Regions from separate parts of the Homo sapiens genome. Here regions 1, 2 and 4 are each reported to be linked to region 3. The links are microRNA targets in miRTarBase. Many come from high-throughput screens and were not tested one by one. Region 3 holds a microRNA gene; each other region holds the end of a gene's coding sequence.
Evidence for each region. The annotated mature microRNA hsa-miR-98-5p reads UGAGGUAGUAAGUUGUAUUGUU and lies in region 3 at 1,932-1,953, shown strand. An mRNA with a match to its seed (bases 2 to 7 or 8) in the 3' UTR can be bound and repressed. Matches are read on the target gene's strand: a 7mer-m8 pairs with bases 2 to 8, a 7mer-A1 pairs with bases 2 to 7 and ends in A, and an 8mer does both.

Region 1: miRTarBase lists SEC24B as a target of hsa-miR-98-5p. The part of its 3' UTR that is shown has no 7-base or 8-base seed match.
Region 2: the mRNA of KCTD5 is a reported target of hsa-miR-98-5p. The part of its 3' UTR that is shown has no 7-base or 8-base seed match.
Region 4: miRTarBase lists MEIS1 as a target of hsa-miR-98-5p. The part of its 3' UTR that is shown has no 7-base or 8-base seed match.

What each region holds. Positions count from the first base shown.
Region 1 is chr4:109,539,244-109,542,400 of GRCh38, reverse strand. SEC24B (SEC24 homolog B, COPII component) reads right to left here. Exons shown (of 24, transcript NM_006323.5): 24 at 1,505-2,840. The coding sequence ends at 2,726. Among named protein-coding and RNA genes, the nearest start is that of MCUB, 19 kb to the left of the region's middle.
Region 2 is chr16:2,706,926-2,710,082 of GRCh38, reverse strand. It overlaps KCTD5 (potassium channel tetramerization domain containing 5), which reads right to left. Exons shown (of 6, transcript NM_018992.4): 6 at 1,053-2,785. The coding sequence ends at 2,756. Among named protein-coding and RNA genes, the nearest start is that of PRSS27, 12 kb to the left of the region's middle.
Region 3 is chrX:53,555,252-53,558,251 of GRCh38, reverse strand. MIR98 (microRNA 98) reads left to right here and starts at 1,911; the gene lies at 1,911-2,029. It overlaps HUWE1 (HECT, UBA and WWE domain containing E3 ubiquitin protein ligase 1), which reads left to right. Exons shown (of 84, transcript NM_031407.7): 60 at 825-870. It overlaps MIRLET7F2 (microRNA let-7f-2), which reads left to right and starts at 978; the gene lies at 978-1,060.
Region 4 is chr2:66,568,830-66,571,984 of GRCh38, forward strand. It overlaps MEIS1 (Meis homeobox 1), which reads left to right. Exons shown (of 13, transcript NM_002398.3): 12 at 221-316; 13 at 2,417-3,155. The coding sequence ends at 279. Among named protein-coding and RNA genes, the nearest start is that of LINC01798, 3.6 kb to the right of the region's middle. RefSeq lists enhancers at 65-2,145, 2,124-3,155.

The sequences.
Region 1 (3,157 bases), not on the chromosome of region 3:
AAGAGCCTTTCCTGCTCACTATCAAAAACAGTATTTTCCATCTCCTTTCCGAGCTTTATTTTTCTTCATAACATTCACTATACTTACATAGAATTATATATCACACTTACAAATTATATAAAATGATTTTTGCCTCTCCCCAGTCTTCTACGTTCTCACTTCAGAGTATAAGCTTTGTGGAAGTGAAGATTTTACTTTGTGCCTGGAACAATATCTGGCAAGCATTAAATGCTTACAAATATTTATTGAATGAGAGACAAAATATCCAGACAAAAGATTTTTGTCTTTTATAAAGAAGAATTATACTTTTTATGGTAAAATTGCAGTATTTAGTTGCCCTTAGAGTACTAAAGTTTCTCTCTCTTTTTTTTTGAGTTGAAGTCTGGCTCTTGCCCAGGCTGGAGTGCAGTGGTGCAATCTCGGCTCACTGCAACCTCTGCCTCCCAGGTTCAAGTGATTCTTCTGCCTCAGCCTCCCAAATAGGTGGGACTACAGGAAGGCACCACCATGCCTGGCTTAGTTTCTCTTACTGTTCAGATTCTCTCTTGCTAGAGGCAGCATGGTATAGGGACAAGTATGGTCCTGTGGGTGGGGGGTGGGGTGGGAGTAGGTTGTGGGTAGGGAGAACATTTGGATTTTTACTATTAGCATTGACACTAATTAGTAAGTAATGTCATTTAGGGTGAGTCATTTAACCTCTCATTTCCAGCAGGGAATGTGAGAGTACTTTTATTTTTATCCAAAGAAATGAGATCCATGAAAGCACAAAAACAGTAAAAATAACCCACTACACAGCAAGCCTTTTTCTTTTTTTTTCTTTTTTTTTTTGAGACAGGGCTTCACTCTATCTCCCAGACTGAGTGCGGTGGTGTGGTCAGAGCTCATTGCGACCTTGACCTCCTCGGCTCAGGATGTCCTTCCACCTTAGCCTCCTGAGTAGGTGGGACTACAGGTGCACACAATCCCTGGCTAATTTTTTTGTATTTTTGTAGAGACAGGGTTTCCCCCATGTTGCCCAGGCTGGTCTCGAACCTCTGGGCTCAAGCCATCCGCTTGCTTTGGTCCCTCAAAGTGCTAGGATTATAGGCATGAGCCATCATGCCTGGCAGAGTCTTTTTCCTTCCAAAGTTTGTTGATGGGGACTTTCATAGTGTACAGAATAAAATTATGTCCCATAATCTAATGGATCCTTAAGAGTTTTTTATAGTAAATAAGTTGTTAGTGAATGAGAGGTTTCTTGATCAGAAGAAAATCACTTTCAAAATTCAAGATGGCAATCTTAAAGTCAATTAAATAAATGGGATAGTGATATGTGTTACTAAAATTTTCTTGCTATAAGTGTGCAGGCAAAAATATCTAATGTAAATAAGAAAGACAATTTAAGATTATACTTACTAGTTAAGAATATTTTTGAAAGTAGCACCATTTGTTTTAGAATACAAACAGAATAAGTACTTGGTAATGTCCACAGACTAATGAAAGTGTATTGATTCATATATATTACTTTTTTTTTTTTTTTAAGATGGAGTCTCACTCTGTTGCCCAGGCTGGAGTGCAGTGGCGTGATCTTAGCTCACTGCAACCTCAGCCTCCAGGTTCAAGCGATTCTACTGCTTCAGCCTCCTGAGTAGCTGGGATTACAGGTGCCCGCCAGCACCCCTGGCTAATTTTGGTATTTTTAGCAGAGATGGGGTTTCATCATGTTGGTCAGGCAGGTCATGAACACCTGACCTCAAGTCATCTGCCCACCTTGGCCTCCCAAAGCGCTGGGATTACAGGCGTGAGCCACCGCGCCTGGCCTGATTCATATATATTACTAACTGAAATGCAGTATCACTGCACTTCCCCAATTAGTAAATTCAATACATCCTGTATGTAAAAAAACCCACCAATCCCCACAAAAAACCAATCAAACAAAAACCCCAAAAAATCACCAAACCATACTGTCAAGCGAAATAGTTTTAATTAGTAGGCTGATCATAAATAAATCTACATAAAAGATTTAACAGAATTACAAAGAGTTTTGTGTTCCTTTGTGGACTCAATTCATAATATGCATTAGTCAACCTCATTCTCTAACTGTGACAAAAAGAGTTGTCATCCAACAATGCAGCACAGTTTAAGCAATTCATATGCTATAGTTACATTTTTACATTTTCTTTACAAATGTAACATTTATGTACATTATATATAGATTTTTTTCTATAGTTCATGTACTGAAACTCTATTGTTTTTACAGAGAAAATGTTGAATTCATTTAATGAATAAGAAACATTCCTTGTTAAAAAGTAATTCATATAAACAAATAACACGGTACCAATGCCTTTTGGCATCTCTTGCCAGAGTTCAAGTCCAGAAATGTTATATTAATTATAAGAAAAAAGAATTTATCTAATTTTACATTATGACATATCATTCCACATAGCTACATAAATTTGCCAGCTTGCAATGAACAGAGCACTGTACTGCCATACTACTGGAAATGTGTAGAAACCAATTCAAAATATACTTGGTGAAACAGCATCATCGTTACCATTAATTTGAGTTGAAAAAGATCTGTCAAGTTCTTTCTTCCCCTTTACTTTTTACCAAAGCCTCAGACAGAGTGCTGTGCGTTGCATCTTGTATTAACAAATGCCTTCATTTCAAATTTCTCACGCGCTTCTCTGACAGATTATGCTTTACCTAGGTTATAGATCTTTTTCTTATTCAATTTTATTCTACTTCACTTACAAATCTGCTGCTGAACATGAAGCAAAAATTCATAGTAAGAAAATGCAGCCTCTGTCCGGTCTTCAATCAAATGCTGAAAAAATTCTGCTTTGGCAGGACTCTCATCTCTGGAAGAAAGAAAAGGGCATTTGTCTAAACGTATTTAAAAGCCCTGATTTCACCACTTTGCAATCTAGCTCATAAAATTACACTTGTATCCTGTAAATTTATACAAATAAAATAAAAGTGCATATTTCTAAAAATAGTATATATTTTAAAAATTACTGGGCTGGCAGCTCACACCTGTAATCTCAGCACTTTAAGAGGCTAAGGTGGGAGGACTGCTTGAGCCCAGAAGTTTAAGACCAGCCTGGGCAAGATAGAAAGATCCCCATTGCTTAAAAAAAAAAAAAAAATTTTTAAAATTGGCCGGGCGTGGTGGCTC
Region 2 (3,157 bases), not on the chromosome of region 3:
CTCGGCTTCAGGACCCAAACTGCAGGGCCTGTCTCCTTTACAGCCTTTTGCTTGGATGGGAAACCTGCTCCGGGCTTTGGCTGGGGACGCCTGCCACGCTGAGGCTTCTCCCAAGTGCCCACAACTCTACCTGGTCAAGGGGCTGTAAGGCCTAGCCAGGCTCCTGGTGGGAGTCGGGCAGCGGGAAGACCCCTTGGAGCAGAAACTGGGTCTCTCCCCTACTCCAAGCCCCGTGCCGGCCTCATGCTGGGCACCCAGAAGCCCAGTCACCCACTCCACCCCTCACCAGGGCCCTGGGGTCAGGCTGGGCCAGCCACACACCTGGAAACAGGATGGACAAGGCCACTACAGCCTGAGGCTCTGTGACCTCAGACAGCCAGGCCCTGGGGGACACCGTGAATGGGAATCTCCCTGCGGGGGGGCGGGGAGTCCAACAGCCAAGGCTTCGTGGAGCAGCCACCAGGAGGAGTCACAGCAGCTGGCGAGGGGGTGCCGGGACCCCAGGACCTTCTCGGGAAGCTCCTGCTGTCACAACCCAGGCTGCAGGCTAAAGTGAGGGAAGAGAGGTGGATGCTAACTTGAGGTATCAGGACTTTCAAAAAAACATCACTTGAGCCGCGCGCAATGGCTCACGCCTGTAATCCCAACTGCTCAGGAGGCTGAGGCAGGAGGATCACTTGAGCCCAGCAGTTCAAGACCAGCCTGGGCAACATAGCAAGACCCCTGTCTCTTAAGGAAAAAAAAAGGCCCTTGTACATGGTCTCCGGTCTCCCGGGATGGGGGTATGCTATCTGCTGGAGGTAGGTGAGGGGTCCAGGCAGAGTGGGGTGCAGGGATGGGCCGTGCAGCTCTGATCCAGTGACCCTGGCCAAGCCGGCACCCCGTGGATGGCCCAGCTCCGCCCTGGCCATCGACTGAGAGGCAGAGGCAGAGCCCTGAGTGAGCCGCCGCGGCCAGTGGGGCTGGGCGGCTTGGAGGGGCAGCACCTTGGTCCGAGCGACCCGGGGTGGCATTCCCCTGCATCTTAAGACCATAAACAGCTACTACGCGCATTCATAAATACACAATTTTATTTGCTATTTCCAGGGGAAACTTAGGCATTAAACTGTAAGCTGATAAAATACGATACCTAAAAAAGTATAAAAGTATAAATATCCCCTTAGAATAAATTTTAGTGAATTAAGTCTTAATATCTTTAAATTAAAAAAACCACAAGCCTATCTACTATGTCAAGGTCAAAAATCAAACAACGCTAAGCGGCCAGCAGCTCCCCAGAGAGGATGCCCAGGAGCCCCAGCGGCCGCCTTCCTCCCAGGCTCTGCTGGGGCTAAGTCTGCCTTCTAGAAAGGCTTTTATAAATTGTTTAAGCCAAACATTTAACAACATACAAGAGACCTTACAAAAAGAAGGAGGTAAGTCCTAATGCTGGAGAATTGGTTAATCAGGTGACTGGCAAAGAGGAGGATGAGGCCTAGGCAGGAAGTCTCCAGAAGCATTGGAAACCAGACAGTGTCAGAGCCTCTGACCTGCAGGCGGGAGGCCGGTGGTCAGTCTGCACAGTACCCCTTGGGAAGCCGGAGTTCCGGAAGCAAAGCGCTTGGAGCCCGCCCTGCACGCCGAGTCCCCAGACTCTGACAGGTCCCCACAGCCAGCTGAGAAAGGTCTGTTTTCAAAGCATGCGGGCAGCGGTTTCTAAAGGAATCCCAGCAGCTCCCACGGCATGTCGGGCAGAGCCCGTGCAGGTCGAGTGAAGTCCCAAACATCCCAGAAAGAGAGGGAAGGCTGCATAGTTATACAAAGAAAATGAGAGAGCGGCGAGAGAGAGGCATTTGTGATGCTCTGTAAACATCCCGAATTTTCACCGTGACGCAGACCTTCAGCTCCAGAAGCCAGTGGACAGGCCTCCAGCCCAACCTCTATGCCAGGCGTGACAAGGCACTGACAGACGCCAGCTCCCCGTGAGCCCGCAGTGGGAGGGGCGAGGCGACACTGCTACCTCGCGCTAACGGATGGAACAGATCAGTCTCCACGCGGCAAGCCCTGTGGGCATTTCCAGAGGAAAAACGCTGGGGAGTCTATCCACACAGAGAAGGGGTACAAAGTTCTCTTGCCTGGAAAATACAAATTGAGAAGCCTTGACTGTCCCGGGCTTGGTCAGGTGGGGTTGGAGCCCGTGTCAGAAGAAGGCCCGGCCTCGGAATGGCGCCGGGAAGCAGTGACGACGCAGAAGCCGCCTTTGTCAGGAGCTCTGCGAGGTCGAGAGAAACCAGCGATCCCGCCTGGGAGGCAGAGCAGACTCCCTGACCGAGACTAGGGCCTGGTGGTCGGACCAGAGGCCACGACGTGCTGGACACTGACGCGGCTGCGGCCGCTTCCTGCCAGTGAAGCCCAGGCTGCTTTTCCAGACTGTGTGTAGCACCAAGAACGCTTCCTTCACACGATCTTCAGGATCGAGCGGGCTGACTGGGAGTGTCTGCCTCAGTCCCACGTGGCACTTGGAAAAAACAGAGCGAGGCCCCCCCAAGAGGCAGCGCCCACCCGGCCGCCGTGCTCCCCCAACTTGGGGACGTCTGGCCTTGGACAGCTGGGCCCGTCTCTCACCACCCACCTCAGAGGCAAAAAAGGATTCACACCCAGATCTCTAGAAAAATGATCAAAAGCAGGTTTCTTCTCACAGCCAAGCTTCCTGGACATGGCAGTTCATTACATCTCGGGAAAACGTAAATCATTTCTTCAGCTGTCAATACTGTGTCCCTCACATCCTTGAGCCTCGTTCTTGCAAAATCTGAAAAACACCAAATGCATAAAATGAGGACTTGGGCTGAGGAGGTGTCCCTGACCAGGCGCCTGCTCCAGAAAACAGAGCCCACAGGCCTGGGGTTAGCTCGGGGAGCCCCGGGAACCCAGCGGCACTGGCCAGGGTCTTGGGGACTCAGCTGGCAGGCCCAGGACCTTCACCGGGGTGTCTGGCACATCTCCAGGCCCCACACAGGGAGCGCTCACTGTGCATGGCAGCCCCTCCCAGACCCACCCAAAGGCGCTGACTCTTGGGCCTCTCAGCCCACTCAGTCCTGGGCCTCAGACATGAAGCGCAACTCGGCCCGCGGGTCCCTCAGCAGTCCAGTCCCCCCTCCCCAATTAAGTCTCTCCCTCTGTT
Region 3 (3,000 bases):
AGATCAGCCTAGGTGTCAGATCAGAGAAAATGTTTGTACTCTGAACCCCATCACCACATGTCATTTTTTCTAGGGCTCACATGTATAAAATCACTAATACAATTTTGGTTTAGAAGGAAGTTACCTACTTTTTTCTGAAACTTCTGGGACCTCAGACAGAGATCTTTTAAATGTCTGAGTAAATGTTGATAGAATTATACATTACAGTGTATCACTTGATATAAAAGGGGGAAAAACTGATAGAAATACAAAGAAATAAGACTTGAGAGTGAAAGACTTTAGTATACCCTACTCAGCAGTTAAGGAATCAGGTAGATTAAAAATAAGGGTAGTGAAGTGTTCAGTTAAAATAACAAGGTTGATCTAACAAATATCTTTATATAGAACTTTTTACCTAATACACACATTGTTTCAAACTTGATATAGGATGAAAAATAAGTGAACCTAGCCTGTGACTGAAAAGACTAGAGTGGACAAAATAAAAAATAAGCCCCATGAAGGGAAAAAATACATAGATGAAACCAAGAAATTCTTGCTAGAATGATCATGATCGTGCCCATCCCTAAGGGGTTTTTATTATCCTTTCCTTCCATATTTATTTCCCCCTCAGCCCCAAACAATTCTTGAACCTGAGTATGTATAGAGAAATTGGTCATATATTTGCACAGTGAAATGATCACCTTCCTTTGGTCACATGGCCAAAGCATTCTCCATTAGATCACTGAACTCCTAGATGGTCTGGGTGGAGGATGGTGACTATTACAGTTGACCTCTATCTTAGGTGCTTGCAAAGTCCCACATTGGTCTATCCCTTCTTTTTGCAGTGTACTGCATCTAAGTCAAATGACTCCACTGAACAGAATCTCTCAGGTAACTCTCCTTCCCTTTCTCCCTTCTTACTAATCAATTGGTTGCTTCTTTATCCTGATAGTTCCGAGTAGCTGGCCCACATAGGCTGAAGATGGACACTGGTGCTCTGTGGGATGAGGTAGTAGATTGTATAGTTTTAGGGTCATACCCCATCTTGGAGATAACTATACAGTCTACTGTCTTTCCCACGGTGGTACACTTCTTCTCCGACTGGCTCTGTTCAGGTTCTTGTTCTGGTTATTATCTACTTTGTTCTGGCATGGGTAATGAGGTCATGTGTCTTGTTCATTTCCTGACTGCAACTCTGTCCTCTGAAACAGCATGTTCATGTACATCTTTGAAGTGGCTGGTCCTTTGATGACCACCATGGTGTGGCACTTCATGAGAATAACTGATGACAGTGGTTCTCAAATGCCAGTCCTCTGTGGAAACGAACAAAATCAAGGAGCTTTAATGCCTTTTTCATAAAGCTGAATTTATTCCATTTAAAAGGCTGTTTTTGTATTTAGAGATCATATTCCTAATTCTGTGGTACCAAAATATTTTTATTAAATGATGTTGATTGGATGTTTTTTCTTACATGGCTAAACTAAAAGTTGGCAACCCCTACATTAGTCTCTACTTTTTGTTCTTTTTTTAATTAAATTTTATTGGTCCATGGAATCTAAAAGTCTAGGAACATTGTCTTGGATAGTGTGCTGTTCATGAAGGTAGCTCTCTGGGCTTAGTGGTATGACTGCCGTATGTTTCCTATTCCCTCTGATCTTCTTAACAATGGTCAGTAGCCATTTTGTGATTCTATCAGTTGGTTCATGTGATATCATATGTCTCCCCCACCCATATTTCCTCAGAACATTCTTCTGCCTCCCTACACCTGTCTCCTTTCGCACTTGAGTTGGAAAATGATTGTACCAAAGCCTGCACAATATTTTTTAAAGCAGTGAAGTAGGGTAGATGCCTTGGTACCCTTAATCTAGCAAAAGATCTTTAAAAGAGTCTGTCACCATGTAAAATGGCCTTTTGCCTGCTGCCCTTATTAGAGGATTCTGCTCATGCCAGGGTGAGGTAGTAAGTTGTATTGTTGTGGGGTAGGGATATTAGGCCCCAATTAGAAGATAACTATACAACTTACTACTTTCCCTGGTGTGTGGCATATTCACACTTAGTCTTAGCAGTGTTGCCTCCATCAGACAAAGTTGTAGATGTTCCTTGGATAATTTGGACTGGAAGAAAAGAGACATGGAAGGGGACAGATGGTGTTTAGGGTGAGGCAGATGTCATTATAAAGTGACTTGTCTTTCATTAATTGGAGCATATAATTATTTTACCTTTGGGCATGAACTCATTTTGCTATTCTTCAACTGTGTAATGATTGCATTTTATTAGTAATAGAACAGGAATGTGTGCAAGGGAATGGAAAGCATACTTTAAGAATTTTGGGCCAGGCGCAGTGGTTCATGCCTGTAATCCCAGCATTTTTGGGAGGCCGAGGCGGGTGGATCACCTGAGGTCAGGAGTTCGAGACCAACCTGGCCAACACGGCGAAACCCCGCCTCTACTCAAAATACAAAAATTAGCCAGGCTTGGTGACACTCGCCTGTGGTCCCAGCTACTCAGGAGGCTGAGGCAGGAGAATTGCTTGAACCCAGGAAGTGGAGGCTTCAGTGAGCTGAGAACACGCCACTGCACTCCAGCCTGGGCAACAGAGCAAGACTCTGTCTCAGGAAAAAAAAAAAAAAAAAAAAGATTTTGAAGGGCTGGACGCAGTGGCTCACGCCTGTAATCCCAGCACTTTGGGAGGCCGAGGTGGGTGGATTGCTAGAGCTTAGGAGTTTGAGACCAGCCTGGGCAACATGGCAAGACCCTGTCTCTACTAAATATACAAAAAATTAGTCAGGTATGGTGGCACATGCCTATAGTCTCAGCTACTTGGGAGGCTGAGGTGGGAAGATCACCTGAGCCCGGGAGGTGAAGGCTGCAGTGAGCCATGATTGTGCCACTACACTCCAGCCTGGGCAACAGTGAGACCCTGTCTCCAAAAAAAACAAATAGAGTTTTGAACGAAATTCTGACCATTTCTTGCTCCAAATAGATGAAGTGGGAGGATCAATAGGATTTTGGTAGTTAGAT
Region 4 (3,155 bases), not on the chromosome of region 3:
TCCGCCTCATCCTTTTCTGTTATCTCAAGCTGGCTGCCTTGCCTTGTCTGCTATCTGTGCATCTAAGATATTGCAGAGGGGAAGCCAGGATCTTTATGCACTGAAGATCTCACTATTTCTCAACCCTCTAGATCCTGTTTTTTTTTTAAGGGTCTTTTGGCACTATCTGTTGACTTTGCTCATTTTCTGGCCTCTTCTTGGATTTTTATCTCCCTTCTAGGACCTATGAGTGGAATGGGCATGAATATGGGCATGGAGGGGCAGTGGCACTACATGTAACCTTCATCTAGTTAACCAATCGCAAAGCAAGGGGGAAGTAAGTACAAATGGGGTCTTTGTTTTCACTTTGTCCTAGGAATATTTTTCCTCTTGCATTTTCTTATGTTCTCCTTGCCCATAGCTTCATGCTTGTTCATTCCTTTCCATTAAACTCCTGGTTTCTTGCTTCCATCATTTTCTTTTTGGTTGTGATCAAGCTTTTAAGCTTATAAATACTGTGTATGATGTACATTTATCCTGTGTGTTGCTATTGTACAGTACTGACCACATGACAAAACAAGAAGCAGTCAGGAGGTGGGGGAGTGGGTTGTCATAGCAACAGACTGATTTGCAAAATGTAAGCAGTCTGCAGCAGTGCAAGGAGAGGGAAGAGCATGTCCCCAAAGTGTCATAAATCTGTCTAACCGCAGTTGATGCATGAGTTACATTTCTACACTAACCTGCAAGACACCGAAAAGCTAAACAGAGACTTCTTTTAGGTAAAATAAACACAAGCTTTACTTAGGGTAAGTAAAGGCATATTTTGAGCTCCAGTCAACTAAACTTTGATTTTTTTTCTTAGTTTATTCCTTTGTCTGTCCATCATAATGGGATTACGTGTGGCAATGGGAAAAGGGAGAATACAAAATAGAGGTGTGCACAGCAGGCTGCGGGGCTTAGCCCAGGCTAATTGACTATATCCAAATTAAGTATGCCATCACTTGCAGTGTGACAAATGGATTTGACTTATTCAGTATACAAAAATAGAGATCATTAATGCAATCATCAGTGGCAGGCCTAGTGAAGTGGGCCTAGGAAAACTGTCCCAGATTCTCACTCTTGCATTTTCTCTCCTATAAAGACACTCCAGCAATTCGAGTTCAAACAAGTAAAACTGTTTTGAACACCAAGGCTCTTGTTCACTTCCTAAATTACCCCTAATAGCACTGTTCTTGCTTTGTTTTTGAAATTAAAAGCAGTTATTTCAGAGTCTTGCTTGTGTCTCTGATTATATTTATGCACTATTTAAAATCACTGCTGAGGCCAGGGGTAATTCGTACTGGTCATCTTCTCTGGGTGTGAGTCAAATATAAGTTTAACAATTAGCTCTGAAAACATTCCATTGAGCTGGGGAATGCAACAGTCTTATTACCTCATCATGGAATTCTCTAGCTTAGTTAATTTAAATATTGTTTCTTAGTTTCTGGGTCAATTAAATTTAAATGATGTATTTTATGCTTCGTGACCAATTAAATTACTAGGTTATTACAAAAAAAATTATCATCTTTTTTGATTAAAGAGCTGTGGGTACAGTATATTTTATAAGCAATTTTCATTAGTTCAAAAATGTTCCTTTAGGCTAGATTAAGCAGCCATTCATTGTTAGAGCCTGGAGACCTTATTCGAAGGTGTTCATCGTATTCACAGTGCACTATTACTTAGAACTAAAGCCAATTGAACCTACTTAGCAATAGCGTTATGCCTTTCACCCTTGATGATTATGGAGCTTATAGCTCTCAGAAACAATACACCTGTCAGTTTCCATCAACTATAGCAATCCATGCAGAAGACAAGAGGCCCCCTCAAAGCAGGAGGGGTATTGTTTTAGGTCCAATTTTTCTTATTGTTCTCAAAATCATTATAAGGTGGACAGTGTTTTGTGAAGATTTTCTTTTCCCCAGCTCTAAGAAACCATGTGGAAAGAATTCATTGATAACTGTTTTGATTTTTTTCTTTTTTTAAGTACAGGTTTTGCTAAGTAATCACCCTTAGTGAGCCTGTGTAGTTCAGCTGCCTGTGAGATGTTTGGTGACCAGCTCAGTGTATTCTTGTATTCTTGATAGAGAATATTTCAGGAGACAAAAGTGCTTCTTCAGACCAGACCTCAAATAACAATTTTATTCTTTTTAATAAATAAGACCTCAGTAGGCGGACCTGATAACAGTGACAATGAAAGGAAAATAGTGGCAAAATGTGAGTTTCCAGCATGATGTTTCTCATTTTATTTTCTTCTGTATGAATCAAAAGAATGCTTTACAAAACCATGTTCCCTTAATCACAGGGTTCTCTGGCTTTTATAGGATTGTCATAGCCAGGACCACACTATTGCTTTTTCATAACATTTTCTTTTTGTTTCTTTCTTTTGAATTTCTTACAGGGCTGCAAAGTATGCCAGGGGAGTATGTAGCCCGGGGTGGTCCAATGGGTGTGAGTATGGGACAGCCAAGTTATACCCAACCCCAGATGCCCCCCCATCCTGCTCAGCTGCGTCATGGGCCCCCCATGCATACGTACATTCCTGGACACCCTCACCACCCAACAGTGATGATGCATGGAGGACCGCCCCACCCTGGAATGCCAATGTCAGCATCAAGCCCCACAGTTCTTAATACAGGAGACCCAACAATGAGTGGACAAGTCATGGACATTCATGCTCAGTAGCTTAAGGGAATATGCATTGTCTGCAATGGTGACTGATTTCAAATCATGTTTTTTCTGCAATGACTGTGGAGTTCCATTCTTGGCATCTACTCTGGACCAAGGAGCATCCCTAATTCTTCATAGGGACCTTTAAAAAGCAGGAAATACCAACTGAAGTCAATTTGGGGGACATGCTAAATAACTATATAAGACATTAAGAGAACAAAGAGTGAAATATTGTAAATGCTATTATACTGTTATCCATATTACGTTGTTTCTTATAGATTTTTTAAAAAAAATGTGAAATTTTTCCACACTATGTGTGTTGTTTCCATAGCTCTTCACTTCCTCCAGAAGCCTCCTTACATTAAAAAGCCTTACAGTTATCCTGCAAGGGACAGGAAGGTCTGATTTGCAGGATTTTTAGAGCATTAAAATAACTATCAGGCAGAAGAATCTTTCTTCTCGCCTAGGAT